Linked DNA regions of Homo sapiens: regions 1, 2, 4, 5, 6 and 7 are each reported to be linked to region 3. Evidence: microRNA targets listed by miRTarBase, many of them from high-throughput screens and not tested one by one. Region 3 holds a microRNA gene; each other region holds the end of a gene's coding sequence. Distances are from middle to middle.
What was found. Region 3 holds the annotated microRNA hsa-miR-490-3p (CAACCUGGAGGACUCCAUGCUG, at 2,797-2,818, opposite strand). A microRNA usually pairs through its seed, bases 2 to 8, with sites in the 3' UTR of a target mRNA and lowers its output. Matches are read on the target gene's strand: a 7mer-m8 pairs with bases 2 to 8, a 7mer-A1 pairs with bases 2 to 7 and ends in A, and an 8mer does both.

Region 1 (4,069 bases), 110 Mb from region 3:
TGGTTGACGGGGAAGTCTGCAGCTGCTGGGTTAAGTACTCTTTAATGTGGATCCGATGCCTTTGGTTGTCTTCCTGCCTGTGGGCCATTTGGCGCTCACAGCTGCTTTTCTCTTGTTCTCTCCCTGTAGTTACTGGGGCTTCCGGATGCAGATGACGATGCGTTTGAAGAGTACAGTGCTGACGTGGAAGAAGAGGAGCCAGAGGCGGACCACCCCCAGATGGGGGTCAGCCAGCAGTAAATCTGGGGGCTCCCCTGAGAAGGAGAGTGAGCCCCACAGTAACCTAGGTGGGGTCACTGCCCCTCCTGGGTTAGCATTTTGCATTAGCACTTCGAAATAGGACATCTGGCTCCCAGCATCCAAATTAAAATGAAATACCTTTTTAACGACCACAAAATATCTGTGATGAGCTTTGCTCAGAAGTGACCTGAATTTCACTCCCGCTTCAGTGGGGTTTCTATGGAGTTGTCTTGGTAGCCTTTGCCATTTTGAATTTAGAGTCCATTTTGTGGCTGACTATTCTCTTAAGTTTATGTTGGAGAATTAACATTCGCTGACTCGAATGTAGAGAACTCTGAATGTATTAAGGATAGGTTTTGAGTCCTCACAGGTGACCTTACTGAGGGAAAGCATGGCAGAGAAGAAATGCAGTCTGCACTTTTTATGTACTTTTTAAGTGTCCGTAAGTGAAAGGTTTTGCTTATAAAGCATGAATTTTAATATCTAGTCATTAAACTGCACAAGTGCAAATACAAGGGCAGGAAAGGATAATCACTTAGCTTTGGACTAAGAGGGTAAGAGAGGCCCAGAAGCCTTTAAGTGTTTTGCCATTACTGAGTTACCTGGGTATGTAGCGACTGGTTCGTGGTTAGGTGTAAATGTTACTTGCTTGTTCGACTGTTTCAAAACATGCTAATTCCAAAGCCACTTTTGAAGTCTATAGTGGAAAATATAGATGGGGTGAAAGATATAATGTATTGATTTTTAAAGCTGTTTATAAGCCGTCCCACGTATAAAATGAAACATTTTACCTTCTCTCTTTCTAATGAGATGGCCGCTTGTTAAATCATGAAAACATCCAGAATTCAAGTGCCGCTTAAACTTTGAAGCCATAGATAAATTTGTTAGAAAAGTAAACCAGGATTAAAAGTTTTTAAAAATATGGTAGAATCCTTCTTTACTTTTTAAGTCTTTTATTTAAAAAAAAAAAGTCAAAAAAAGGATTCCATTGTGTAATTTATTTAAAAATTTAATCACATGTTTCGAGGGACTTAATTGTGGTGTATTTGTAAAGGGACACGAAGGTAGGAATCTTTTAATCGTGGGTTAGCTTGGTTAACAGGGAACGTTTTAATAATCAAGATACTCAGACAACTCACAGAAACAACTTCTGTAATAACTGGAAATACTGCTGTTATCGTTTAGCCAACAATTACTTACTGGGGACATCCTTTGTAATGCTAACATGGAATTATTCCTGGACCCTTCTGCATCCCTGGTTTTAGTTAACCTAGGATGCGGAATGCCTCCTTTACAACACTAGATTAAACCTAGCATCTGGGGTGGGTACGTTTAAACAGTCACACATGTGCCTGTTAGGTTGTGAAAGTTTTGAATTAAAAACAAGCAGTAGCAGCAGAGGCCACAGAACTTATGGGAGTCTTGTATATCTTCCAGGCATGTCGGTGTAAACCTGATTGTCTCGACATTTTCTGTTTAATTGATTGGTGCTGTGAGGAGTTCGGCTGCTCGTGGTAAAACAGCGTACTCCAGTTTTAAGTCATCGGGTAAAATAATAGGACAGTGATTTCCATCTGTGCTTCAGTACCCACTTTGTGTTCTTTTCTTGAAAAGTCATACTAAAGGTTAATTTCAAGTAAAATGAATTTCCTTCCAAGTAGCCTATTAGTAAAACACAACTTAGTGTTTCATCCATTGGGGTGAGCATATACTGCCCTTTGCAGCCCTGCCTGTGTTCTGATTGGCTCCATTCATGAGCAAAGGTGATTGTGAGCTGTATATTACACAGGTGTCGCCCAGGTTTCGTAACCTCCACTTTAATGCAGTAAGCCGCAAGAATGACTTCTGCAAGTGAAATGAGGAAGCTTCACTAGCTTGCTCCATTGGAAGGTAAACTGAAATTTTATACGTTGAAGCTTAAAATCTAAATTTATGTATGTTTGGAAATGGAATGGACATTAACATAAAATGTATTTTATCAAAAAAGTGTTTAGACTTTGACCAAATACATGTTGGTATTATCATGTTAATGTTCTCTGTTTATAAAAATTGAGTGGAGATAGATAGACTCGGCCATTCTGTGGGCTGATGAGAATTCTGGGCTTTGTTTTGCACCAGGGGTAGGAAACAGAGAACATGTCTGTATGTTACTTAATCTCCATAGCAAAATCCCAAACAGCATTAGCAGATCGAATTGTTTCTTCTAAGACTTCCTTTTTCTGAATGTGTGCACATCCCTTCTCGTGCTCACACACTTGCCCACACACTCACTTCTTCCTGCGCTGTGGCTGCTCTAAGCAGGGCTGTGCATGGTGCAAAGCTGCAGTCAGTGAGCCTGGCAGCCTGTGGTTTCTGTTATGGAAATGGTTCCATGGTGAAACACATCCCTGACCCTTCACAGACTTACACATTTACTCACCAGGAGGTGGCAGCGGTGTGGGAGGAGGAGTGTTGACCTTGGACGCAGGAGAGACACCTGGGTTCTAGTTCAAGTCGGCCAAGGACTGTGTGACCTTGACAAGTCTAACTGGTCTGTGAACAAGGGGCATTTGCCCTTCCAGCTGTAAACACTGCCCTTCTGTGCCTGCCTTATGTGTGTGTGTGAGTAAGGAGCAACAGTCAAGGAAACTTTTAGGGATTCGAGAAGAAAATACATGTGGGATCTTGCCAAGGTGCTGCCTTTAGGATGCTGACCCCTGCACTACCTTAGAACATGTTGATCTGTGAGTGCCCAAGCCCCTGAGGGCTCGATCTCATGGGGCAGATGAAATTCTCTTCCTTAGAGGAAAGGGAAAGGTGAGGCCCCAGAGGACTTATCTCAGCTGTACATGCTCTGCCTGTGGAGACATGGCTTTTCTTTGTGCTGTGGCAGACTGGGGCTTTGGAAGTGGTGTATGTTTAACTTACCTGAGAGTGAGAGATGTGTAGGAAGAATAGCTGGAAGAAAGTGAAAGATGAGTGCCAGTACTTTTGGCCTGTTATCCAGTAGAGAGAAAGTGACAGTGAAAGTAACGTGAGAGAGAAAGAGTGTGTGTGTATATGTGAGAGAGAGAAAGAAAGAGAAAGGAATGCTTGATTGCTTGTTGTTCACTGGGCCAGCTCTGAAATCCAAAATCATGCCTTGATAACATTACAAAACCGTGATCCTGGGTTTGAGTGAATCCTAGAGACATTGTTCTTATGGCCGCCTGGTTTCCGCAGCCTGATCACCATATCGAGCAGACGTCAAGGAATCAGAGTGAAGTACGGAGCCAGGGAGGGAGGTGAGGCCCCGTGTAGTGCCTGTCACCACTGTGGATTCACCTGCACTCAGGTGTCCACTCCTGTCTCCCAGGCCCAAAGCAGCACATGGTGCAATGGAAAAGTCTCTTATGTAGGGATCCTCCTTGTGTCCTGGTGCCAGAATTAGATTTCCAGTGTACTTCAACGAAAACCTCTCTCCTTTATAGTTGCTGTCATCTTTCATGTATAAACAGAAACCGTCTCTAGCACAATATATTTCTGAATATTGTTTCTGTTTCATAAGAGCACAATGTACATGGACCTAGGGGAGCTGTGGTCCCAAGTGTCATTGGAATTTATATTTTAGGAATAGGCTTTGCATGTTAAAATTCACAAGTTGGGAAACTGGTATGAACAGATCTGATTTCTTACAGAGAGGCATGAAGGAATAGGCAGGACTTAACTTGGGGTGGGAGGAGATGAATAAGGGAGAATGGGAGAGTTGGGGTCTGACAGTTACCACCTGAGCCCCAGGAAAACTGTTTTCATTTTCACGGCTGTCTCACTGGGGGCCTGCTTTCCTCAAAGGAACTGACTGTATGTTGAG
Region 2 (4,062 bases), not on the chromosome of region 3:
CTGCGGAAATACTGGGTCCGCTTCTTGCTAGCCCGCCACTCAGGCTGCAGAGCCTGTGTCCTGGGGAAGGACTTCCGGTTCCTAGGAAAATGTCCCAAGAAGCTCTCGGAAGGAGATGGCGCTGAGAAGCTTCGGAAGCTGCAGCCCTCACTTAACAGTGGGCGGCTCCTACATCTAGCCATGCGAGGTCTTGGGGAGCTGGGCGCCCAGCCCCAACAGGACCATGCACGCTGGCCCCGGGGCAGCAGCCTGTCCGAGTGCAGTGAGGGGGATGTCACCATGGCCAACACCATGGAGGAGATTCTGGAAGAGAGTGAGATCTAGGGTGGAGTTCCACCACCCTGGCTCTGCTCCCAGGGACTCTTGAGGGGGCCCAGGAAGAGGAAGCAAAGCAGGACACACGTTGCTGGGCACGGAATCATTCTCGTTCCATTCACCATGCCACTTTGATATGAAAGCTATCACAAGGTTCTTCAAGCTCTGTATGAAAGAGGCTGTGTGTCATGCTCACAGCCTCTGCCTGCTCTTCTCATCCTAATAACCCCCACCAGTGTGTTTTCCACAATGCCCACCAGACCCTAGGGCCTGGCTCTAAATTCAAGCCAATGAAGTCCCACCATGAAGAGAGGTCTCCTGTTATAGAGAAGCCAGCCAATATCTCTTCCTTTATCCCTTGGGGTGCATGCTTTCCATCTGAGGTTGGGTTTAGGGTGCGTGAAAACCTCCTAGGAAGCTTTTAAAATGCAGAATCCTAGACTTGTGGCTAAGATTCTAAGACAGTGAGTCTGGGACCATGGCCAGGAATTGGAGCTGTTTAATAAGCATCCCAGGTAATTCTGCTGCAAGCCCACCCTTGGAGAACACTGGGCAGGGTGAGAGGGAGCTAGAAGCGCCCCCATGTGGCCATGGCAGGATGCTGCAAGAGACAGTCTGCTCTCCCAGGTCAGCTGGGGTGTGCCTGCCCTCCTTGGAGAGTATGTAACTCCACCCACCAGAGTGCCACTCCTCTCTGCTCTTCCTCTCCTATCAAGTCTTGCCTCTCTCTCTCTTTGCCTCAGTTCTCTGTCCCTGCACAGCAGGAGTTCTGCTTGATCCTCCCTTTGAGGATTGGCCCCAGTGCCTGGGGACCCTCTGAATGTCGTCTTTGGTCTGTTCCTCTCCTTTCTGGCTCTATCTACCTTTCTGAGTTTGGCTTCTACCAGCCTGATTTACACTACCATTCTCTTGGGGCAAGGAATGTCCCCACCATTTTTGGTTTGCCATTGATGCATTGATTGTCACACCTGTTGTCCCAGGAAGTTGACCTATAACTCTCCATGGCCAGAGTCCCTGCTGATCAGAATTCAATTTGCCCAGTGGGAATAAATACTGAAAGCAGGAGGGCCCAGGTAAAGCAATAGGAGTTTGGCTGGATCTGGACATGCCCAGGGTGGCTCTGAGAGATCCAAGACTTTGCATCCACCAGCCTGTGGGATCTTTCCTGCCTACTGTGACCCATGGAGGCTGAGGAGGGCCCAGGCAGTTGGGGTCAGGCTCAATGACTGAAAGTATAGGGCAAGAGGCTGTAGGAAGATCAAGGGATGGACATCCTTTGGAAACAGTGTGTTAATGCACAGGAGTGTCACTTTCATGGTATGTAAAATGCATGTGTACGTGGGTGGGGTATGTTGCTATGGGACTAAATACCACCTTGTCTTCGGGGGAGTCAGTTTGATACTCCTCAAGCAGGGCTGCCATATTTAGCAAACAAAAACAAGGTACTCAATTAAATTTGAATTTCAGACAAATAGTCTTCTTGTATAAGTATATCCCATGGGCATATTTAATCTGAGATTGGAATTCAATCATGCATCTTGTCTTTTACTGGCATCTCTGTTTTCAAGGATACTTTGCCACAGGGCTGGGACTAGGGTGAAATAATCAAGGCACTCATCTCTAAAAAGCTCAAAGTAAATGATCAAAATAAATCATATTTTAATGCAATATTCTAAAAAAACAAATTAACAAACTACAGCCCATGAGCCATTTATAGAAATGAAATTTGATTGGAGCCAGGGGCAGGATAAGGGTGAGGCAGGAGAGGCCAGCTCTTGCAAGTGCAGGCTCTGGTCCTGACTTTCAAATGTTGTCTATGAGGGACTTTTAATGTGAATTTTTATTTTTAGACAATTGCATTAAAATGTTATTTATATTGACTATGGGGACTTTTGGGGCCCCCTTAAATTTTGCACTTGAAATGGGATCCCCACTTGTGTCACCCCATAGTCCAGCCCTGGTTTTAGGATGGGGATGGAGGCAAAGGCATCAGGCAAGTAATGAAGCAAAGGTTTATTTTTTGGTGTCCAGATTATCCATAGCTCAGTCATGAAAATCTATGTCTTTCTATTTTTCTCCTTTCTGCAAATGTCCCTGCCTCGGCTCATCAGCCAATTAGCTCCTAGAAAGCTGGGGTCATCTCGTATTCCCAGCAAGTACCCAGCACAGTGCCGGTTCAGAGCAGGTGCTCCACACACATTCCTGGAATGAGACAGCACAGAAATGGCTCTCGGGAGCCTCGGATGCTGCTGGGAGTAAGTGATCCAGGACCTTACCGCTAAGAGGAGAAACTTTTTTTCAAAGCATTTATAAATACTCCCTCCACCCCTCACTCCACAAATGGGGTGATCAACACTTACTGCTTGCTCTTGTTCTGCTAATGATTAAAACAAGTTTATTTAATTTCATTTGCATTTTGTTGATTCTTTTACATTTGTCTCTCACTGGAGCTGAAGGTCTCTCCCACCCATGAAGAATGCGATGCACTATTCCTGGCCAGAAGTGAGGAAAAGGGCTGTGGCGTTTAGCCAGGGACCTGGGTGCTCCAATATCTTAAATTTGGTCTTAGGGACCAGAGGAGTGGGCAGAGGGGCCGGGACCAGAAGCAGAGGTCAGAGGTCAAAAGAATGGAAGGAGAGTGTCTCCCCTTTTATAGACCACCCCATTGGTCACTCAGCTTGCCTGTTGCTTTGAAGATCTAGTCTAGTGGTTCTCAATCCTCGCATTACAATCCCTTGGGAAGCTTTTTATTTATTTTTATTTATATTTATTTATTTGAGACCCAGTCTCACTCTGTTTCCCAGGCTGGAGTGCAGTTGCATGATCTCAACTCACTGCAACCTCCACCTCCCGGGTTCAAGCAATTCTCATGCTTTAGCCTCCCGAGGAGCTGGGTCTACAGGCGTGAGCCACCAGGCCCAGCTAATTTTTTTTGTATTTTTAGTAGAGACGGGGTTTCACCATGTTGGCCAGGCTGGTCTTGAACTCCTGACCTCAGGTGATTGCCTGCCTCGGCCTCCCAGAGTGCTGGGATTACAAGTGTGAGCCACCACGCCCAGCCCCCTGGGAAGCTTTTTTAAAAGACCAGTGACAGGGTCTGACCCCAGAGGTTCTGATTGAAATGGTCTTACTAGACCTGGGCATTGGGATTTTTATAAGTTCCTGAGTGATCTTTTTTAAATTGTGGCAAAATATATATAACATAAAATTAACCATTGTAGCCATCTTTTTTTCTTTTTGTTTTTTGAGACAGAGTCTTGCTCTGTCACCAGGCTGGAGTGCAGTGCTGTGATCTCGGCTCACCGCAACCTCCACCTCCCAGGTTCAGGCAATTCTTCTGCCTCTGCCTCCCGAGTAGCTGGGACTACAGGCGCCTGCCACCACTCCTGGCTAATTTTTGTATTTTTAGTAGAGATGGGGTTTCACCATATTGGTCAGGCTGGTCTCAAACTCCTGACCCCAGGTGATCCACGCGCCTTGGCCTCCCAAAGTGCTGGGATTACAGGCGTGAGCCACCGCGCCCGGCCAGCCATTATTAAGTGTATGGTTCAGTGGCATGAAGTACCTTCTTACTGTTGTGCAGCCGTCACCACCATCCATCTCCAGGACTCTTTCATCTTCCTGAACTGAAACTCTACATCCATTAAACAATAGCCTCCCATTCTTTCCTCCCCAAGCCCCTGACAACTTCTACTTCCTGTCTCTGTGAATTTGCTTATTCTGGATACATCAGCTATAAGTGGAACT
Region 3 (4,069 bases):
TAACAAAATTTTTTAAATAGTAGTAATTTGACACTAAGACTCTACATAATATTACCAAAGATCTGAAAATGAGTGTGAAATAAACAAATGCTAATTTGAAAAAAAAATAACATTTTGGTCTTGGCTTTGATAATTTCCAGAAAAACATGGAATGATAAAATACAGTTTTTCAAAGTAAAACTAAGAAGCAATTAAATTTAAAAATATGTATTGATAGATACTCTCGCAATCAATATTTTGAGAAAGTTGAAAAATATGTGGGAGAAAATATTGAAACATAAGGGAAGTAAAAATAATAAAACCACAAAAAAAGAGAAGAGAAAATATGAGAGAATTAAACTACCAATTTAAAAGCAGAGACTGGAAGATCAAAATAAATAAATAAATAAATTCTAATTATAAAATACTTAAAGGGGATTGATCTGAATAAAATGGCACAGATAGTTTAAAATGATGACAAATTCTTTTAGGCAAACTAAAACAGAAGAAATAGGAAGCAGCCATATTAGTTTCAGATAAACTAGAATTACAAGCAAAGTGTACTGAACAGAACAGAGAAAAATAGTTTAGTTATGTATAAAATTCAAAATATGTTTAAAAACCAACAGAATTTGATTCAAACATGATAGGTGCAAAAAATGCAAATACAGCTACAAATCAGGTAGATTTATTTTAAAAAATAAGAACAAAAATAAATGAATAATATAATGAATATGGGAAATAAATACAAATAAAAAACGAGTGCATTTTGTGTGCATGTGTGTGTATATCTTGGCCCTTTTCAACAAAGAAAATGATCTTCAGTTATCCAAACAACTCAAAAACTGAAAAGCTTAGAAAATTCCCAAAATATAGACATTCTAAGACCATATTATTGGGGCAAAATGCAATAAAATTAGAAATTTGTAAGACAATTTGAAATAACAACAAAAGCAACAAACATCTAGCACTTCAGATTTTAAAAATTAAAATTATTATACAAAAAAGAACAACCCAAACTATAATTTTCAACCAATATTAATATTTGTGTTGAACATTTGATTTTGCTATCATCACAGTACTGTACACTTATAAACATATCTCATTTAATCTTACAAAGCACTATAATGTAAATATACTCACTCTAAATTACAAATACAGAAGTGTAGTGAGTTAAAGTCCCTCTCACAACATGTGTGAAACTGTCAGAATTCAAACCTAAGCTCCTTGATTCTAAACCCGTGCTCTTTTTCACCTGGTCTTAGCCAAAAGACTGAAAAGCAGCAAGCCTGTGCTCCCTTAATGTTAACCAGGCTATATTTTAAACATTTAGATGAGACTAAAGCAGTTGTCAGAAACAAATTCATAGCTATAAATGTTCCCAATATTAAAGAAGAAGTATCAAAATTTTATAATGCAGAAGAAACTAAGCTTTAAACTCAAGAAATTATTTTAAAAAGGGAAACAAAAACCTCTACAGAATTAAAAAGAAGTAACTACAAAAGTAAGATAAGTAATAAATTATAAAAATCAAAAGCCACAAAACTCTGGCAAAAAAGCATGAGAAAAACATTTAATATTGGGAAAAAGAAAGGAAAGATAAATTTGGAGAATAATTATTTTAACAGAATCATATGCACAATTATTTGATAAATACTACAAGCATTTTTCTTAAATAGATAATGGTAGCCATCTATAATTTAACAAAATTAATGAGTAGAGATATAGAAAATGTGAATAGGCAAGTGACTTAGAAAAATGTTATAATAATTTTTAAAACTGTTGTAAAAAATGATTTGAGCTTTTTACCAGAAGTTTTCCAGGAAGGGCCATTCAAACATTTAGAGAATTGATCATCGTTCTATGTAAAATTTTCAACAGTATAAGGATGAAGGGGAAGCTACCAATTGGTTTTATATAATCAAGTGATTATGAAATAAATTTCAGCCAAAGATAACTCAAAAATTAAAAAAACAAACTTTTAACTCAGTTTCACTTGCAAATGTAGATGCAAAATGCTTTAGTAAAATGGTAGCAAATGGAATTCAATAGTACATTAAAAGAGTAACATATCATGACAATTAAAGCCATTGGATTTAGAAATGTATTAGTATCAGGAAAACAAATAACATGTCACTTCACATAGTCTGAATAAGAAAATATATATATATGATAATTCCAATACAAGAAAAATAAAACATTTGATAAAGGTCATCTCCTTAATATCATGTACAACACCTACTTTAAACCAAACCCCAAGGCCATATTACTGTTAAAACACTAGTAGAGTTATTAAAACATCACAAGAATGACTGTTTCAGCATTATTAATTAACATTATAAAACATTTAGCCAATTAAAGATATAAATAAAAATGAGAAATATTGTAAAACAGAAGGCGTATTATTTAAGAATAATATGCTGATACACCAACTTTAGAAATCCAATAAATTTAAATTTTAGAAAATTGCAGTCTTAAATGCTAGATTTGCCTGTTACTAAAATTCATTCTGTACATAATTAAAATTCACAAACAAATATTTTACTTATACTTCTATCATTTCTAATCAGCTTTTTAAAAGAGAAATCTTTTAATACTTATTTTCATCCTAGTAGTTTACATTGTGACACCAGCTCTAACAATATCCACAAAAATAACAAATACTTGGATGCTGAGGTGTGAATTTTGTTCCCATTTTTGAAAGCAGGAAGAGTAAGACTTCCTTTTGAAGGAGATTTGCACATACACTATAGAAGACACCCATTTAGTTCTTGGGAAGATGGAGTTGGAAGTGTCCGCTGCTTGTGAACAGCTCAACAGCATGGAGTCCTCCAGGTTGGTGCATCTCTAAACTTGACCCACCTGGAGATCCATGGTGTCGAACAATGAACTTTCCAAACCAGCAAGGCCTCCATAAAGTGAAGGGAGATCCTCTTCACCACCGTTGGTTGAAGAATAAAAAACCTACACCTACACTAGCCCAAATGAGTTTCTGTTGTTTGTCTTCTGTGTCAGAATTTCATTCATTCATTTCCCATCTCTGGCCTATTGTTTAAAGTTGCTGGCCATAATGTATACTTTCCAGACTCCAGGTTAATCCCAGGCTGAGAAGCTTTGTTTGTTTGATAATGAAAAACTGAACAAGGAAACAAGCAAAAACTTGCAAATAATGTGTACCTTATCATAAACATCCAAAGAGTACAAAATTCTGTGCTCTGCAGTTGCTGTATAACAAACATATTAAATTGTACTTGATTGAGCAAATATTTACATCTTACTGTGGAATTTCAAAGTTTAATGTCTACACGTCTTATTAAGGTTGTTATCTATTATTGTATGGTGGAGAAAGGATATCTAGCTGATAGTCATGTTTAAAAACTGACCTGGGTTTGGGACTGCAACCAAATTCTAAGGGCCTAGCTGTTTATGATTTGCCCATTCCATTCAGGGTCGTCCTAATCCCTTCTCAATCTAAGATGCTTCATTCTCACTATAGTTTGCTCGAGAAAGAAAGTGGCTGCTTATGGTATGAGTTCATAAGAGTCATCTAGGATTGTGTTTAATACCCTATCCCACCAGCTTCTAATTTTTACGTGCATTTAATTGGGGCTATATTTGTTAGTTTTCAATTAGAAAGAGACAGATAAAAAGTAAACTGCACACATTATCAGAGGATGCTATAGCTTACCTTCTCACTTATTATGAATTTGCCACCTAAATTCAAACTCTTCTGAAATTTATACCAATTATTAATTCTGAAAGCAATTCTGATTATCTTAATAACTAGCAACTGACTGCAAACATAGAAGGATAGCTAGGTGGATAGATGGATGGATGGATGGATGGATGGATGGATGGATGGATGGATAGATAGATCGATAGATAGATAGATGAGTTTAAAAGGAAGATCACAGAATCAATGTTAGTAGTTAACAATTATTTTTATATTTTGTTTTGAGAGTAGGCTTTGATGGAGCCTAATGAAAGCCATAGAAGAAGCTAAGGGGAGGCTGGACTGTTATAAACAACCCTTCACTTATCTAATACAATTTAACTAAGCTTATCATTTTTTTTTATAGAAAGAGAAATT
Region 4 (4,069 bases), not on the chromosome of region 3:
CCCTGTCACACTATTTTGATCTCTTATAACCTCAGTTTGGGGTTTGTATAACAAATTAATATTTGGGAACCATATGACAAAAAAAGATGATAGGTTTTTAAAAAAGTTGAAACCTTTGATATTTAGTAAAAGTTATTGTGCAAGAAATAAAAGCAAAAATGCAATATTAGGATTTGTATCTATTCTATAAAAGAGAGCCTTAGGACATTTCTCCCTACCTCTGAATGACATGCTTTTTAATTATAGTACCCAAATTAGGTTTTATCTTTAAGAGGCTGCATTTCTTCTCTAATTCTAGGTGCCAATGGGTCATGTTTGGTTAGAAGGTGACAATCTACAGAATTCTACAGATTCCAGGTGCTATGGACCTATTCCATATGGACTAATAAGAGGACGAATCTTCTTTAAGGTACCATTTTCTGCTTAAAATGTAAGGTTTATTTTCTGAGCTAGAAAAAGTTTCTCTCAAAATGATCTCTGAAATCTTCAAGCTGTCAGTGTACTTAACTGTTGCACCGAATATATTTTTTGAACCTGTTGGCCTTAACTTAATAGCCATATGCAAACCTATTCCCCCATTGCCCCTGCTCCCATAGAGATAATAATAAAATCCAAACTACCTTAGCTATAGCCTAAGAAAACTTTAATTTGAATTTCCAAAAGTTCAGTTCTCTCTTGTACAACTCTTAAAACCATGTTCACATCCTGCCCAGGGCATATTTTAATAAGCATGTGCAGAAGAACAGTCTAGATTCAAACTACCTGTAAAGTAGGGATACCCCAGTTGAGTACTGTGAGTCACAGACTTATTGTGAATGTATGATTATTAGGGAAGATTGTTTTCACTGGCCCCTCCTTTTTATCACAATCAGTGAGGAGAAAAACATTCATGAATACATGGAGCTGTTGGATAATTTACAGGATTCTTTACATTTAAAACAGATGCCATATTCAAGTACTTAAACCTAAGCCCCTTTGGTTGAAAGTACACAGTTAACTCTTACTTGCAAGTAGTAAAAGAAAACACAGACCATATATTCATACATATTTATTCACACACCACACACATATAATTTCATGTACATTGTTTGAATGTCCCAAACTTTGGAGTTTAAACATATATACACATAAGTTTATTTTCTCAAGTCTTACTTTGATGTAGAAAATTTTATTCTTGATTGATGAGTAAGGAGAAAGTGTTTATCTGGCATAGAGAAAAGGGACAGATAGCAAAAGGGAATATGATGATACTATAACATTACTTTCACTAATTGTCTTCAACCTCATTTTGATTTTACAGATTTGGCCTCTGAGTGATTTTGGATTTTTACGTGCCAGCCCTAATGGCCACAGATTTTCTGATGATTAGTAAGCATTTATTCTTTTGACTTGATTATTGTCTCCTTTTCATGTGAATTTATTACTCCCGTTGAAACCGTGTACTTACCAATAAACTATTTGCTATTCAGTTTTAGTTGTTTTTAATTGTTAAATGTAAAGAATATTCAACACACATTCTGCCAAGTTCTGTTAGTTCAAAATATATGGATAAAAATGTAACCCAAAAAAGTCATCTAAATTTTATGATACAAAAATATTGTGGGAGGGGGAACCTGGATGACTACCTCACTTTTGAATTCTTGTTCTTATAGGTATAATGAAACTAATCTATTCTTCTTAAATATACCTCATACTTTAGCAGCTACATTTACAAGTCAGAGTAGTAACTATTCGTATTTATAAGTTCAACCTGACAATGCCAGGTTTGATAAAAAGCTGCTAGTCTACATGCTCAGCCCACTCATTTGAAATTAAGTAAAAATGTTTCTAAAGGATCCCTTAAAGTTCTTTAAATGAGTTCTGACTTTTACTGTACACAAAATATTAAATACATAGAAAAATGCATCTTTAAGGCATATGCCATCTGTAGTTGGCTATAGTCAATAATACTTTATAAAAGTTCATTTCAGCATAGCAGCAGTGCAATGGCCCTGTCTTCATAAATACAGGCATTAATACTATATCTTTTTTTATTTATTTTATTTTATTTTTTTTGAGACAGAGTCTTGCTCTCTGTAGCCCAGGCTGCAGTGCAGTGGCACAACCTCGGCTCACTCTGCCTCCTGGGTTCAAGTGATTCTTGTGCCTCAGCCTCCCGAGTAGCTGGGACCACAGGCAGACACCAACGTGACTGGCTAATTTTTAAAAAAATTATTTTTAGTAGATATGGGGTTTCACCATGTTGGCCAGGGTGGTCTTGAACTCCTGACCAAAGGTGATCCGCCTGCCTTAGTCTCCCAAAGTGCTGGGATTACAGATGTGAGCCACCATGCCTGGCCCCAATATTATATCAACACTCCAAAATAAAAGGGGAAATAATGCACCAACTTCCAAGTCATTATTTTTAAAAAAGCTTCTGGCCAGGCATGGTGGCTCACGCCTGCAATCCCAGCACTTTGGGAGGTTGAGGTGGGCGGATCATTTGAGGCCAGGAGTTCAAGACCAGCCTAGCCAACATGATGAAATCCCATCTCTATTAACAAAACTTAGGCCAGGCACGGTGGCTCAAACCTGTAATCCTAGCACTTTGGGAGGTCGAGGCAGGTGGATCACCTGAGGTCAGGAGTTTGAGACCAGCCTGGCCAACATGGTGGAACCCCATCTCTACTAAAAATACAAAAATTAGCTGGGCATGGTGGTGGGCACGTGTAATCCCAGCTATTCGGGAGGCTGAGGCTGGAGAATCACTTGAACCCAGGAGACGGAGGTTACAGCGACCTGAGATCATGGCACTGCACTCCAGCTGGCGCGACAGAGTGAGACTCTGTCTTAGAAAAAAGAAATTAAAATTAAAAGCTTCCATTTCCTAAATTACATTTAAATTTGAAGATGGCAGTGTTTACAAGCTTTGGAAATACGGACCAAGATTGGAGGCAACACTTTCTACAGTTGCCACTTTGTCTTTATTAACTTTGAAATAACCTTATGAATATCCATAACCAGCCTTCCTTATGGAAGAACTGGCCTCACATTATTCACAAAGATTCTAGGTGTACAACAGCCCCATAACTTTAGCAACTAGAAACGTTATCGGTTAGACCAGAAACTTAGTAACTATAAAGGAATATGATGATACTGTTACCCACTGAAAAGAGGAGACATGCTCATATTAAGAAAATTCTTATTTTGTGTCATGGAAAAAAATGACATAATAAAGTTCTCAGATGGGAATTCACCAAATATAATCAAATCTATTTTTGTGACAACTTGTAAATATAAATTATAAATACAAATAAATAATTATATTCATTCTCTATTAATCTGAGGTGGTCTCTGCTTGATAATTGTATATTTTCTTTGCAAATAATCGGGCTGACAAATAATCCATTTCCTTGAATGGACAAAGCTCAACGGCTTCTCATCATGTCTCAATACCACAGTTAAAGCATTTCAAGTTGTGAACAATTTTAGTTATAATGAAGGAGTTCTATAATTAGTGAACATGTATCACAAGAAATCAGGCTAACTTCTTCCGCTTCATCCTTGGAAACACTGTATTTTCCACCACATCTGCAACTCAGATAAAAAGAGTGATCACCTGCAAAAGAAAACAAAATAATCTTTCAAAGACTTGTAAGTAACTACCTCACTAATACCCTTAAAAGGTGCAGAGTTTATTCCATAGGAATTGTAAAACAAAACAAAGAAGCTCAGTAAAGATAAAATGTATTTAAAGGAGAACTGGATTTCTTGAAAGGGGCAGTGTTTCTAAAAATTATCTACCAAAGAATCTTTCTCTGTAGAGGAGATGGGTTGAAGCTATGAATTAAAAGTCCAAGGATTTTGGGAGGAGAGGGCATGCTCAGAAGTAACCCATGAAACTTATTTGAAGTTTTATGTTTTCTTAAAATTCATATAAATTTTACATTCTTTTCAACAATGTATTTGTCTAAAATATTACAGTGAAGGAAAAGAAAAACAGCCCTACCTGTCTCACTGTTAGGGAGGATGATGCTTTTGCCTGAAGTCTATCCTTTAGAGAAAGCCAGACTATTTATCAAATGCAACA
Region 5 (4,069 bases), not on the chromosome of region 3:
AGCCTCCAGATTAGTGGGGACCATTCTATCAATGCCACTCAACCCAGTAAGCCATATGCAGAGCCAGTCAGGTCAGTGAGAGAGGCATCTGAGAGACGGTCTTCAGATTCCTACCCTCTCGCTCCTGTCAGAGCACCCAGAACACTGCAGCCTCAACATTGGACAACATTTTATAAACCACATGCTCCCATCATCAGTATCAGGGGGAATGAGGAGAAGCCAGCTTCACCCTCAGCAGCAGTGCCTCCTGGCACAGATCACGATCCCCACGGTCTCGTGGTGAAGTCAATGCCAGACCCAGACAAAGCATCAGCTTGTCCTGGGCAAGCAACTGGTCAACCTAAAGAAGACTCTGAGGAGCTTGGCTTGCCTGATGTGAATCCAATGTGTCAGAGACCAAGGCTAAAACGAATGCAACAGTTTGAAGACCTCGAAGGTGAAATTCCACAATTTGTGTAGGGATGTCAAATTTCAGGGTTTTTTTGTTGTTGTTGTGTTATTTTGTGGTATTGTGCTTGTTTTGTGAAAGAATGTTTTGACAGGGCCTCTTTTGTATAGGACTGCCAAATCATGGGTTTTGCCTTTTGTTGTTGTATTTATCCTCTGTTGGTAATACTGAATGGTAGAATGTTTTGATAGGGTCACATTTGTGCCTCACTGGAATTATCTTTAAATTCTGTATTTTTAAAGTTGTGAATAAGATAGGTGGATTCGTATTTTTTAAAGTTCAGTTGACTTTCCCCACCAAATGGTCCATTTGAATGCATCCCTAATATATGATATAGTCTCAACTAATAGGTGCAATTTGGGAAAATCAGGTTTATTTTTTGGAGTGGAACTGTTATAAGTGCTTATTTATAAAAGGAATGTTTCTGAATGCAAGTGCCTAAAAAGATCTTTGTTGGTATGCATATGTTTTGTCACACAATTTTATAGTGCATCTTTCACCATTTGTGCTTTTTTAAGATACGTATGTAAGCTCTTATTTTTCAATTGGCAATTCAGTTAATTTTTAAATGTTTACATAATGGCCAGAAGGCTTGCAAATCTGTATTTAATTGCATTTTAATTAATTGCCAGTTTTTACATGTGATAGTCAGTTGTACAAAGAAAATGCACTTAAACCTGTTTCTAAATTATATATTCAGTTATATTATATTTGGCTTTAGATGGTTTTAATACATTTGATAGTTTTTCACCCCTTGGCTTTATTTTATATAAACTTTTGTTTTTCAGCAGTTCTGAACTTTTTAGTATTTTATAAATGGTCCAAAAAATGCCTGTTTCAGAAGTTTTTGAATTCAGTGCATTTCCTCTTGATTTGTCTGGGTTAAAACCATTCCTTTTGTATGAAATGTTTTGACTTAGGAATCATTTTATGTACTTGTTCTACCTGGATTGTCAACAACTGAAAGTACATATTTCATCCAAATCAAGCTAAAATTTATTTAAGTTGATTCTGAGAGTACAGGTCAGTAAGCCTCATTATTTGGAATTTGAGAGAAGGTATAGGTGATCGGATCTGTTTCATTTATAAAAGGTCCAGTTTTTAGGACTAGTACATTCCTGTTATTTTCTGGGTTTTATCATTTTGCCTAAAATAGGATATAAAAGGGACAAAAAATAAGTAGACTGTTTTTATGTGTGAATTATATTTCTACTAAATGTTTTTGTATGACTGTGTTATACTTGATAATATATATATATATATATATCAACTTGTTAAATTATTTCATGTTCCCGTGGCTTCTTTTCAGTTGTTGCCTATTACAGTATGAGAGTTTAAGGTTATTAACCATTGGCTTAGAAGTCAACACCTAGGATCATACATCCGTTGACTACAATGTGGAATGAATTTTATGGAAACCTGTTTTATAGTTCTATGTGATGTAAAGGTCTAGGGAGCAATAACCAGCCCTTTTTTTTCTGAAGGCTTGTTTTTAGTCCTCATTGTACAAAATATAAAATAATCATATTGCTATGAATACCTAAAAAGAAAATTAGAGCCCATGTGTATTGAGCCTTCTCTGTGTGCCAGGAACTTTGCCAAGGTGCTACATAGATTATTTTATTTCAAGTTCACAGCAACCTATAATGGGTGGGTAAGCATGTTATTATTTCTGTGTTACAGATAAGGAAACTAAGGCTTAGTTAAATGACTTGCTTCAGTGTTCCACAGGTGTAACAGGTGGAGTCAAATCTCAAACATAGGGCTGTCAGATTTTGATGGTTAGTGCTCTTAATGACTGTGATTACTAAATAATATCTGGTAGTTTTTAACAATAGAAAATGCAACTTTAAAAAATTTTTATTGTGGTAAAATACACATAACATTTACCATTTTTAAGTATATTGTTTGAACCATTTTTAAGCATATAGTTCAGTGGCATTAAGTATATTCACATTGTTTTGCAACCATGAGCACCTATTCATCTCCAGAACATTATCATCATCCTATACTAAAACTTAGAAAATGTACTTTTAAACTTCTTCAGTTCTCTTTTAATATATGGAGCCCACCCAAAGGTTATATCATGTAATAAACTCATTTCTCTGTTTTCCCTCACAGCTTAAAAATGAGAATTTCACTTTTGGGTCCTTTCTGCCTTTAGGGCTCCCTGGCACTTTGTCCAGCGTAGAGCCTTAAGCCTCTAGATGCTTTCTAGTTTCCTGGGGCCCTGAGGCAAGTATCTCTTGAGAAGAGGTTGCTATTTCTAGAGGATCCACAGTGTGCACTGTGTTGTGCTATCTAATAGTGTGGTGGAAATCATTTATCCAGAAGTTGTTTTTTGCAACATGGAAAGATACGTGACCAAAAGGAAAGGGCAACAGCAGGAGCCCTGTTAGTGCTGCCAGAACACCAGGAAGCCTTGTGGGAGGCGTATTGTCCAAGATGATGCGTATTGTCCAAACGACTCAGAAGAAGTCATTTCTGAAGGGTTGATCATAACTTCCCTAGCCATGTTTTACCTACAGAGAACTTAGTTAGAATTTATGAGTACAGTATGTTAAATTACTTTTAGTGTACCTTAGGCAGTGTATTTGTTTTGATACAGAGACAAAGACTATATGATCCCTGAGACTTGTTGCCTAGTGAACTCACAAGCAGATAGAATTGTACCTCAGTTATTTGGGTGATTTAAAGATGGTACTATGGCTACACTATTCCCAGCTATCGTTGTGTTACAGTATTTATACAACTGGAAACATCTCTCTAAATGACAACCATTGTATATTGTTAAATAACTTATAGTCAGTGGAATTCTGTGGGTTTTTCTTTCCTACAGGCAGGAAATTATGGTGATGTGTTGATATGATTATATATGTAGACTATTCAGTTAACATCTAGGAGTTAGCAAATTTGCTACATTCACAATCAGTATGTAAGTCAGTTGTATTCCTAGATATCAGCAACTAACAGAAATGGAAGTTTTTAGAAAGATCTCTTCAATATCATTAAAAAATACAAAATACTCTACCTAAGAATAAGTCTAACAAAAGATGTACAAGATCTTGATGGAGAAAATGTTAGACCATGTCAGGAAGCATTTAAGGAGATCTTAAATAAATGTAGTACTCCATAATGTACACGAATTAGAAGACTCAGTCGTGTAAAGATGTTCATTTACATTTGTAGATTCAATGTAATCCCAACCAAAATATTTTTTGCATTATTACCTCTATCTACTGTGTGTTTCCTTAAGACAAGGGCATTCCTACGTAACCATAGTACAACCATCAAACTTAGGAGATTGACATTGACATCATGATATCTAATCCATAGACCACATTCAATCTGCTGATTTTGATTGCCTCAGTAATGTTCCTGTGTTTCAGCATCCCAATCCAGGACCACATAGTGCATTTAGTTGCCCTATCTCTTGTTTCATTCAGTCCAGAACATCTTTTCAGACTTGTCTTTGACCTTGACACTTGAGGAGGATTGGCCAGTTTGTAGAAAGTTCCTCAGTTTTGGTTTATCATTAGATAAGACCCATAAGGTTTAGGATAGACATTTTTGTCCAATACTACAGAAATGATGCTCTATACTCAAATGTGTCATGCCAGG
Region 6 (4,069 bases), not on the chromosome of region 3:
AAACTCTGGATCTCAGGTGATCCGCCCCACTGGGCCTCCCAAATTGTTGGGATTACAGGTGTGTGCCACTGCACCTGGCCCTTTTTGTGTGTGTGGGACGGAGTCTCACTCTATTGCCCAGGCTGGAGTGCAGAGGCACAATCTTGGCTCACTGCAACCTTTGCCTCCCAGGTTCAAGTGACTCTCCTGCCTCAGCCTCCTAAGTAGCTAGGATTATAGGCATGTGCTACCACACCCAGCTAATTTTTTTTTTTTTTTTTTGAGATGGAGTTTTGCTTTTGTTGCCCAGGCTGGAGTGCAATGGCGTGATCTTGGCTCACCACAACCTCTGCCTCCCGGGTTCAACCAATTCTCCTGCCTCAGCCTCCTGAGTAACTGGAATTACAGGCATGTGCCACCACGCCCGGCTAATTTTTGTTTTTAGTAGAGACAGGGTTTCTCCATGTTGGTCAGGCTGGCCTTGAACTCCCAACCTCAGGTGATCCACCCCCTCAGCCTCCCAAAACGCTGGGATTACATGTGTGAGCCACCGCATCCGGCCAATTTTAGCTTTTTTTGAATACAGAGATTGTCCTCTCGTTACTCACTGCAAGATCCGCCTCCCGGGTTCACCCCATTCTCCTGCCTCAGCCTCCCGAGTAGCTGGGACTACAGACGCCTGGCTAATTTTTGTATTTTTAGTAGAGATGGGGTTTCACCTTGTCAGCCAGGATGGTCTCGATCTCTTGACCTCGTGATCTGCCCGCCTCGGCCTCCCAAAGTGCTGGGATTACAGGTGTGAGCCACCGCGCCTGGCCCTTTTTTTTTTTTTTTTTTTGAGGCAGGGTCTCTGCTCTGCTGCCCAGGCTGGAAGGGCAGTGGTGCGATCATGGCTCACTGCAGCCTCAACCTCCAGCTCAAGCAATCCTGCCATCTCGGCCACCCGAATAGCTGGGACTACAGTCCACAGGCCACCACAGCGGGCTAACTTTTGTACTTTGGTGAAAGGGTTTCAATATGTTGCTCAGGCTGGTCTTGAACTCCTGGGCTCAAGTCATCTGCCAGCCTCAGTCTCCCAAGTGTTGGGATTACAGGCGTGAGCCACTGCCCCTGGCCCCTGTGGCTCTTCACATATGGCTATGTCTAAGTGTCATTCAAAGCAAGGTAGACTCAATTAGCCTGAGACAACAGGTGTAATCAGGACTAATTGTTTCCTCATTATTAGATTTACATTATATTTTTGGCAATGATATTGTGTACTTCCCATTGTTTATCAGAAAAGACATTTTAGTTTGTAACATTCCTGGTGGTGCTAAGTTGGAATCCTTGGTTAAGGTGGCTGTAGCCAAATTCCAATTTTTACGTCAGTAAGCCCCATCGTGCCAAAATGTAGAAATTTTATTTCCATCAACAATATGTTCAGAAGCCCTGACCAACGTTTACCCTTGGAAGCTGCCATGTCCCTTTGGGGCCAAGAGAAATTTGCAAGGCTGGCTCCAGGTTTCCCACACCAGATACAATGTGGGCACAGACCTATTTGTACAAGTTATCTTAACATCCAGATGGGAAATTGGGAATATAAATCTCTTCTCTCAGCTCCCCCCAAAACAGCAAGATGTCATGCCTCTGCCAGGGAACTCATCTGAGACACAGGGAGTTTATAGCTCCAACTGTCTTCCTCTTAGCATTCTGGGAGCATAGCAGGGAGACAGGGAGTGGGGGACTGAATGTGATTGATAGGAACTTTGGGGGAGGCCTGTGAAAATTAGGGTGATTTGGCAAGTATGTAACCTTAAGGTTTTATCTTGCTGGGGCAGGAAGATGAGTAAATAAACTGTCTTACTGGTAGACTCCAATTATTAATTTATTTTGTATATAGAGAAATTTAAGTTTATTGAAATGTGTTAGAAGCAGGGGAAGTATCTACAAGCAGAATCGTAAAGCCAAGGACATTTCCAAATTAATAGAAAGGAAGGAAACAGAACAGAAACTTGACCCATCCAAATAAAGCAGGGGAGAAGTTTAAAAAGGAAACAAAAGGAACAATACACATAGTATAAGAAAAAATGTCTATTATTTATTACACAATAATTCTGACCACCAACAACCAACGGCGGGGGCGGGCAGGAGAGAAGAACATCTTGCTTCTCAACAAACTTTCCTCCCTTGCTTTAACATTTTTGAGGATTCTTTCCCAAACCTATTACACCTGTATTATGATGGTTACAAATTTTCCAACTCTTCCACTCCTTCCAGTGCATTATTTTTAGTATCTTCATTAAACGGGCAAAAAAAAAGATCCCCTACTTGTAATAACAAAACAATGTTGGAAACTGTCATTAAATCAGGATAAGTGAAAAACAGATCTGTTCCCAGACTCGCAGGACTATAAGTTTAGGAAGTACACAAAAAAATTAAAAATTAATTACACAATAGGATACATTAAATATGTGCAGCTTTTTGTATGTGAATCATACCTAAGTAGTTTTAAAAACAAATGATCCAACCCATACCACCAACTAATAAAGAACAAACGAGTCATACAAAAGAAAAATCACACTTTTTGGTTTACTCCTACTTGAGTTAAGAACACTAACAATAAAATTTGCATGCAATGAATATGGTTCTCTAAATACAACAGATGAATTATTTTACATACACATCTTATTTTTATTTATGGAGAATCGGTTAATAAACACATTTTAAATTCAATATATTATGTATTTATGAGCGGGAAGCAACCTTAAACATTTTAAACTCCAGAAATATACAAAACAATTATAAGTGAAATAATACAAAGTCCCTTGTGTTTTGATCCTGGAGTCAAACCATAGAAATCTCAGGTTATTAAGAGAACTTTGAAAAATATTGTTTAGAATATTAAAAATCATGTGTTTGGGGGAGGGAGGGAATTAACAGCCTTTCTTTGCCTTAAAATACTTTACGTTTTATGAAATTGCAATTGGAATGAAGCAGCTCCTAAAGTAGTCAGTGTTCAGAGGAAGAGAAAATTGAGCACAAGAGCCAACTACCATTTTACTCAAGTCCATCACAATGCTTAGCTGAAGAACTCACTTAAAAGAGCTGTTGAAGGTCAGGCGCAGGGGCTCATGCCCATAGTCCCAGCATTTTGGGAGGCTGAGGAGGGTGATCACTTGAGTCCAGGAGTTTGAGACCAACCTGGCCAACATGGTGAAACCCCATCTCTACTAAAAATACAAAAAATTAGCTGGGTGTGGTGGCAGGTGCCTGTACCTAGCTACTCAGGAGGCTGAGGCAGGAGAATCATTTGAACCCAGGAGGCGGAGATTGCACTGAACTGAGATTGCACCACTGCACTCCAGCCTGGGCAACAGTGAGACACTGTCTCAAAATACAACAAAAAAAAGCTGCTGCTGAAGTCATGTCTATTTTAGAAAAGTAGTATGAATGAGTTTTTCTACATATTAACTACAATTTATGGTAATTTGTGAAATGTTTTTCCATTTTTAAATGTAAGAGTCTCTATCTCCACTCACAAAGCAACAGGCACTGCTAGGGGTCTTAGGCTAACATCTGCCACCCCACCAGTCTGCATGGCCCATAAACAGGTGCAGAGGACCAGAGTTCACCTGTCAGCAGCACCGCAGAATCCAACTCTCCAGCTTTTCTGCCATTAATTACCATAGATGTGGCCTTTTTCCTGATATTCTATTCCCATTGGAGGCTTTTTATTAAGACCTTGTTCCTATAAAGCAAATAAAGTATTTGTTTTTAAAAAGAATGAAGAAATATTAAAAATAGCCAAGAAACCCGCTGCTGGAATGCTGTTGAAATTGCCCTTACAACTTTAGGATCATAGGTAGCAAGCCTGTGATCCTGTCATTCAAGAATGAAGATCATCAGCCAAGTTATCATGCCTCTGTAATATATTCCCTGACTTGTGCCAACCATGGACAGGAGGCCTTGGAGGGGCTCTTTTCATCACTTTCCCAAAAACCTAAGTATGTCATTAAAGGACTACCCAAAGTGACCTCCTCAGTTCTCTTCAACTTGCTTGGCATAGAGAGATTATCAAAACACTCACAGCAAAAAGTAGGATATCCCAAAG
Region 7 (4,069 bases), not on the chromosome of region 3:
TCTCTCTTCCATCCGCCAATTTTCCAACTTTATTTTCCCCAAGTTCCAGACTGGCCAGGCAACCCATGAGTCACTGCCCTTGATTCATTCATTCATGCACTACTGGGGCATAATTTCTACCCTCTACCTCCTGTGGTCTTGTTTGGGTTTTGATTCCTAGTTCCTGGCTCGACAGCCCTTTCCAAAGCTGTTCTGGTGTCAGCTCCCAAGCCTACTGCTCTTGTAGATTCTCCTTTTTATATCTGAGTCATGGGCATTTATTTCCTGGAATTAAAAAAAAATTCACTGGTATTTTCAATGCAGCATTTCTAAGGACTTGGAGTAGGAGAAATTCTATATTAGCTTAGAGAGAATTGTTTCAAAACACCAGAAATGTAAACTTGAATGAAGGACAACATGCATGGAGAAAGGTGGACAAATCACAGGTGGGCAGTGGATTTTGCCCAAGTAAAAACTCGGATAAACAACACCTTCATCAAGCAACATCATTTTCACCCTCCAAGAAACACCGTTGAGTCATAAACCAGCCTCCCCCACCCTAGAGTAGCCACTGTCTTGATTTTTAACACTGTAGATGAGTTCTGTTGGTTCTGATTGAATGAAATTAGAAGTTGTTTTCATGTAGTTGGGCTCATCATCTTTGCTGGGCTCATCATCTTGCTGTGTGTGGTCATAGCCGATTCTCTCCCATGGCCGTCAAGTGCTCCACTTTATTTATTTATTTATTTTGAGACGGAGTTTCACTCTTGATGCCCAGGCTGGAGTGCAATGGCGCCATCTCGGCTCACTGCAACCTCCGCCTTCCCGGTTCAAGCAATTCTCCTACTTCCGCCTCCCGAGTAGCTGGGATTACAGGCATGCGCCACCACTCCCGGCTAGTTCTGTGTTTTTAGTAGAGACACAGTTTCTTCATGTTGGTCAGGATGGTCTTGAACTCCCGACCTCAGGTGATCCACCAGCCTCGGCCTCCCCAAGTGCTGGGATTACAGGCGTAAGTCACCGCATCCAGCCAAGGGTAAATCTCTTATTTTAGAAATTATTCAGCTAGTGAATGGGGAAGGAATGAGAGACTGAGACTATAATTCTTTTGCAACCCATAACGAATTAACAGATTTAGCCATTGAAAAGCAATGGCAATTAAAAGTAGAGTAGAAGTAAATAACCAGTACTAAGTTCTTCCTCCTGATGGAAGAATACAATGGAGTGCCATAAATGAAGTATTCAAGAAGAAAATCAAGTCAGTCTATAAGCAAATCTCTGTAGCCAACTACCAATTTGTAGAAAGTACAGATAAAACAGGTCCATATTAAACTATGCCTTGGGGTGGAGCCAGCAAAATGCAAACTATGGAAAACTCAGCCAGACAATAAAATTTCAAGGAGGAGCATAGAGAAAAAAAGAGAACAGGCCAGGTGCGGTGGCTCACGCCTGTAATCCCAGCACTTTGGGAGGCCGAGGCAGGCAGATCATGAGGTCAGGAGATTGAGACCATCCTGGCTAACATGGTGAAACCCTGTCTCTACTAAAAATACAAAAAAATTAGCCGGGCGTGGTGGCAGACGCCTGTAGTCCCAGCTACTCGGGAGGCTGAGGCAGGAGAATCGCATGAACCCGTGAGGCGGAGCTTGCAGTGAGCCGAGATCATGCCACTGCACTCCAGCCTGGGTGACAGAGTGAGACTCCGTCTTAAAAAAAAAAAGAAAAAAGAGAACAAAAATTATACATCCCAAGGTAAAACTAAACTACAATTTCAGAGGATGAAAATATAAAATAGAACAAAGAAGCAATCATCATAAAGGTCAGGCTGTGATTTTATGTGGGGAAGGGAAGCCTTTATCACTGAGCTGGGGCAAATGATGGTTTCTGGGCTGGCTGACAAACTTCTATATCTCTGGTGGTTAAAGAGTGTTTATCTTTTATTATTATTATTTATTATTATTATTAAAGGGCAACATTTTCAGACAGTTTTTCTTTTTGGGTACCTGTTTTATTTTATGGCAAAAAGCTAATGAAGAATAAAATAATTTATAGGTCATGATTACTGTTTTGCAGAAAGCCTACTCTCCACACCCCTCTCCAGACACTGAGCTCCCAAAACAAGTGGCAGCACCAGGACCCCCTGGCAGGGCCACCTCACTTCTGGGTGTGTTCATGTCACTGGAGGCAATGTCCCAGGTCTATTCCTTGATGCCTGGAAGAACCTGATAGGAGACAGTTGAGGGGAAGCCTTCTCTGTCACCTGCAGGTTCTTGGCTGTCACTGTAGAGGGAGCGGGTCCTCACTTCTCCCACAGGCCGGATCACAGCCAGAACCTCCTCCCTGCATGGGGAGTGAGGCTTGATCCTTTCCCTGAATACAGTGACAGAGATCTCTGTGTCATCACATGAAGGCTCCAACTCTTCAGGGCAGATGTTCCCTCACAGGGTCAGCCCCTGAATATTGGCGCCAGATGTCCCACCTCCATCCCTTCCCAGTCCTTTCTGTTCTGCTGTGAATCTGTCAGTCATTGGGAACTAGCAGGGAAAGGGAACAAGGAGGGGAGATTGCTTTGATGCTGGGTCAAGGCATTGAGACAGACCTCTCCTTCTCCCTGAACCTCACACTTTATCCGCTCCCAGACGCATGAAATAAAACACAGACCAGAAATGTCTATTTAAAGAGTAAACATTTACGGTATAAATTATGCACACATAATAGTAGACACAGAGTAATGCATAACGGTGTGACGGGGCGAGGGGACCTCAAGGTGACAAGAAAGCTGGTCCTGGGCTGGTCAGGAGGAGTCATCACCAAGATACTCACTCATAAAGTTCACCCATGATAATCTAATTACTGCACATGTAATATATTAAAATATATTAAAACATAAGAAAATAGGACAGGCATGGTGGCTAATATAATAAAATATATTACAATATAATAAAATAGGCCAGGCACGGTGGCTCATTCTTGTAATCCCAGCACTTTGGGATGCCAAGGCAGGCAGATCACCTGAGGTCAGGAGTTTGAAACTGGGCTGGTCAACTTGGCGAAACCCCGTCTCTACAAAAAATACAAAAATTAGCTGGGTGTGGTGGTGCCTGTCTGTAATCCCAGCTATTCGGGAGTCTGAGGTACGAGAAGTGCTTGAACCTGGGAGGCAGAGGTTGCAGTGAGCTGAGATCACACCAGTGAACTGCAGCCTGGGTGACAGAGTGAGACTCTGTCTCAAAAACAAAAACAAAAACAAAAACAAAAACAACAGAAATAATGATACCAATTAATATGGCACTGTTAAGGGCCCCACAACCCTGTATTGGACTGAACAAAGGGCGAACGTGGGAATAAAGAGAAAGACAAAAGAGTATATTTGGAACAAGGGGTCAGGGGGCTTCTTGCTTCTCGTGAACAAGGGCTCTGATCTTCCACAGCCCTTCGTATTTATTGGTATAGGAGATAGCAAGAAGAGGGGTGGAAGAAGGAGTCAGCTGCTGGGTCCAGAGTAGGCTTGTAAGACTGCATTCCTCAAACAATAGGCTCTAGATGACCCAGTAGATAACTCCAATGAGCACCATGGAGTGAATGCCCTCAGCAAACCTTCTGTTGGCAGGAGCAGTCGTGAGTTTGCCCACATCCTGCATTCATGATAAACAATTTGCTGTTTGATCATATAGCCTCCAATGGAATGTTGAGTTGGTCATGATCCCTTTGCTGGCTCTCTACGTGGCAGAGCAGCAAACACCTCATACCTACTAACACTTTGCAGCATCCAACAACAATAAATAAGTGATGTTATTTTCTCTGTTTCATAGGTCAGGAAACAGAGGGAAAGTGCTGGTGAGATCCAGGCAGGGAGTTGAATCCTGGCCGCCTGGCTGTAGAGTCTAGGTGCCCTCAGTGGAACCAGTGGACCCAGTAGCTGACATCAGAGGCTGAAATCCCAGCTGTGCTGCATCCCTGTGGTCTCCTGTCCCAACTGGGTGTTGATCCAGGACCTGCAGGCTCACAAGCTCTGGAGAAGAGGGAAACGGGTAAATGCTCCACTGGGTGCAGTGTTGTGTTTATTCCCTAAGGACTTTTCTCTCTTCAG

Region 1: miRTarBase lists MTURN as a target of hsa-miR-490-3p. Seed matches in the 3' UTR shown: 7mer-m8 at 2,037-2,043.
Region 2: the mRNA of GLP2R is a reported target of hsa-miR-490-3p. The part of its 3' UTR that is shown has no 7-base or 8-base seed match.
Region 4: miRTarBase lists DNAJC24 as a target of hsa-miR-490-3p. Seed matches in the 3' UTR shown: 7mer-m8 at 1,611-1,617.
Region 5: the mRNA of ARHGAP29 is a reported target of hsa-miR-490-3p. The part of its 3' UTR that is shown has no 7-base or 8-base seed match.
Region 6: miRTarBase lists DPPA4 as a target of hsa-miR-490-3p. Seed matches in the 3' UTR shown: 7mer-m8 at 3,157-3,163.
Region 7: the mRNA of MICB is a reported target of hsa-miR-490-3p. Seed matches in the 3' UTR shown: 7mer-m8 at 3,130-3,136.

The regions. Positions count from the first base shown.
Region 1 is chr7:30,157,309-30,161,377 of GRCh38, forward strand. It overlaps MTURN (maturin, neural progenitor differentiation regulator homolog), which reads left to right. Exons shown (of 3, transcript NM_152793.3): 3 at 130-4,069. The coding sequence ends at 240. Among named protein-coding and RNA genes, the nearest start is that of MTURN, 24 kb to the left of the region's middle. RefSeq lists a silencer at 2,484-2,543.
Region 2 is chr17:9,889,382-9,893,443 of GRCh38, forward strand. GLP2R (glucagon like peptide 2 receptor) reads left to right here. Exons shown (of 13, transcript NM_004246.3): 13 at 1-2,718. The coding sequence ends at 324. Among named protein-coding and RNA genes, the nearest start is that of RCVRN, 14 kb to the right of the region's middle.
Region 3 is chr7:136,901,991-136,906,059 of GRCh38, reverse strand. It overlaps MIR490 (microRNA 490), which reads right to left and starts at 2,893; the gene lies at 2,766-2,893. The region is part of intron 2 of CHRM2 (cholinergic receptor muscarinic 2); the gene reads right to left. LOC349160 (a long non-coding RNA gene) reads left to right here. Exons shown (of 4, transcript NR_046103.1): 3 at 4,059-4,069.
Region 4 is chr11:31,429,800-31,433,868 of GRCh38, reverse strand. It overlaps DNAJC24 (DnaJ heat shock protein family (Hsp40) member C24), which reads right to left. Exons shown (of 5, transcript NM_181706.5): 5 at 1,034-3,598. The coding sequence ends at 3,468. It overlaps IMMP1L (inner mitochondrial membrane peptidase subunit 1), which reads left to right. Exons shown (of 6, transcript NM_001304274.2): 5 at 299-409; 6 at 1,301-1,468. The coding sequence ends at 1,369. Among named protein-coding and RNA genes, the nearest start is that of DNAJC24, 62 kb to the right of the region's middle.
Region 5 is chr1:94,170,259-94,174,327 of GRCh38, reverse strand. It overlaps ARHGAP29 (Rho GTPase activating protein 29), which reads left to right. Exons shown (of 23, transcript NM_004815.4): 23 at 1-4,069. The coding sequence ends at 459. Among named protein-coding and RNA genes, the nearest start is that of ABCA4, 51 kb to the right of the region's middle.
Region 6 is chr3:109,324,319-109,328,387 of GRCh38, forward strand. It overlaps DPPA4 (developmental pluripotency associated 4), which reads right to left. Exons shown (of 7, transcript NM_018189.4): 7 at 1,826-3,706. The coding sequence ends at 3,670. Among named protein-coding and RNA genes, the nearest start is that of DPPA2, 9.8 kb to the left of the region's middle. RefSeq lists an enhancer at 1-432.
Region 7 is chr6:31,509,704-31,513,772 of GRCh38, reverse strand. MICB (MHC class I polypeptide-related sequence B) reads right to left here. Exons shown (of 6, transcript NM_005931.5): 6 at 2,649-3,991. The coding sequence ends at 3,864. Among named protein-coding and RNA genes, the nearest start is that of MICB, 14 kb to the right of the region's middle.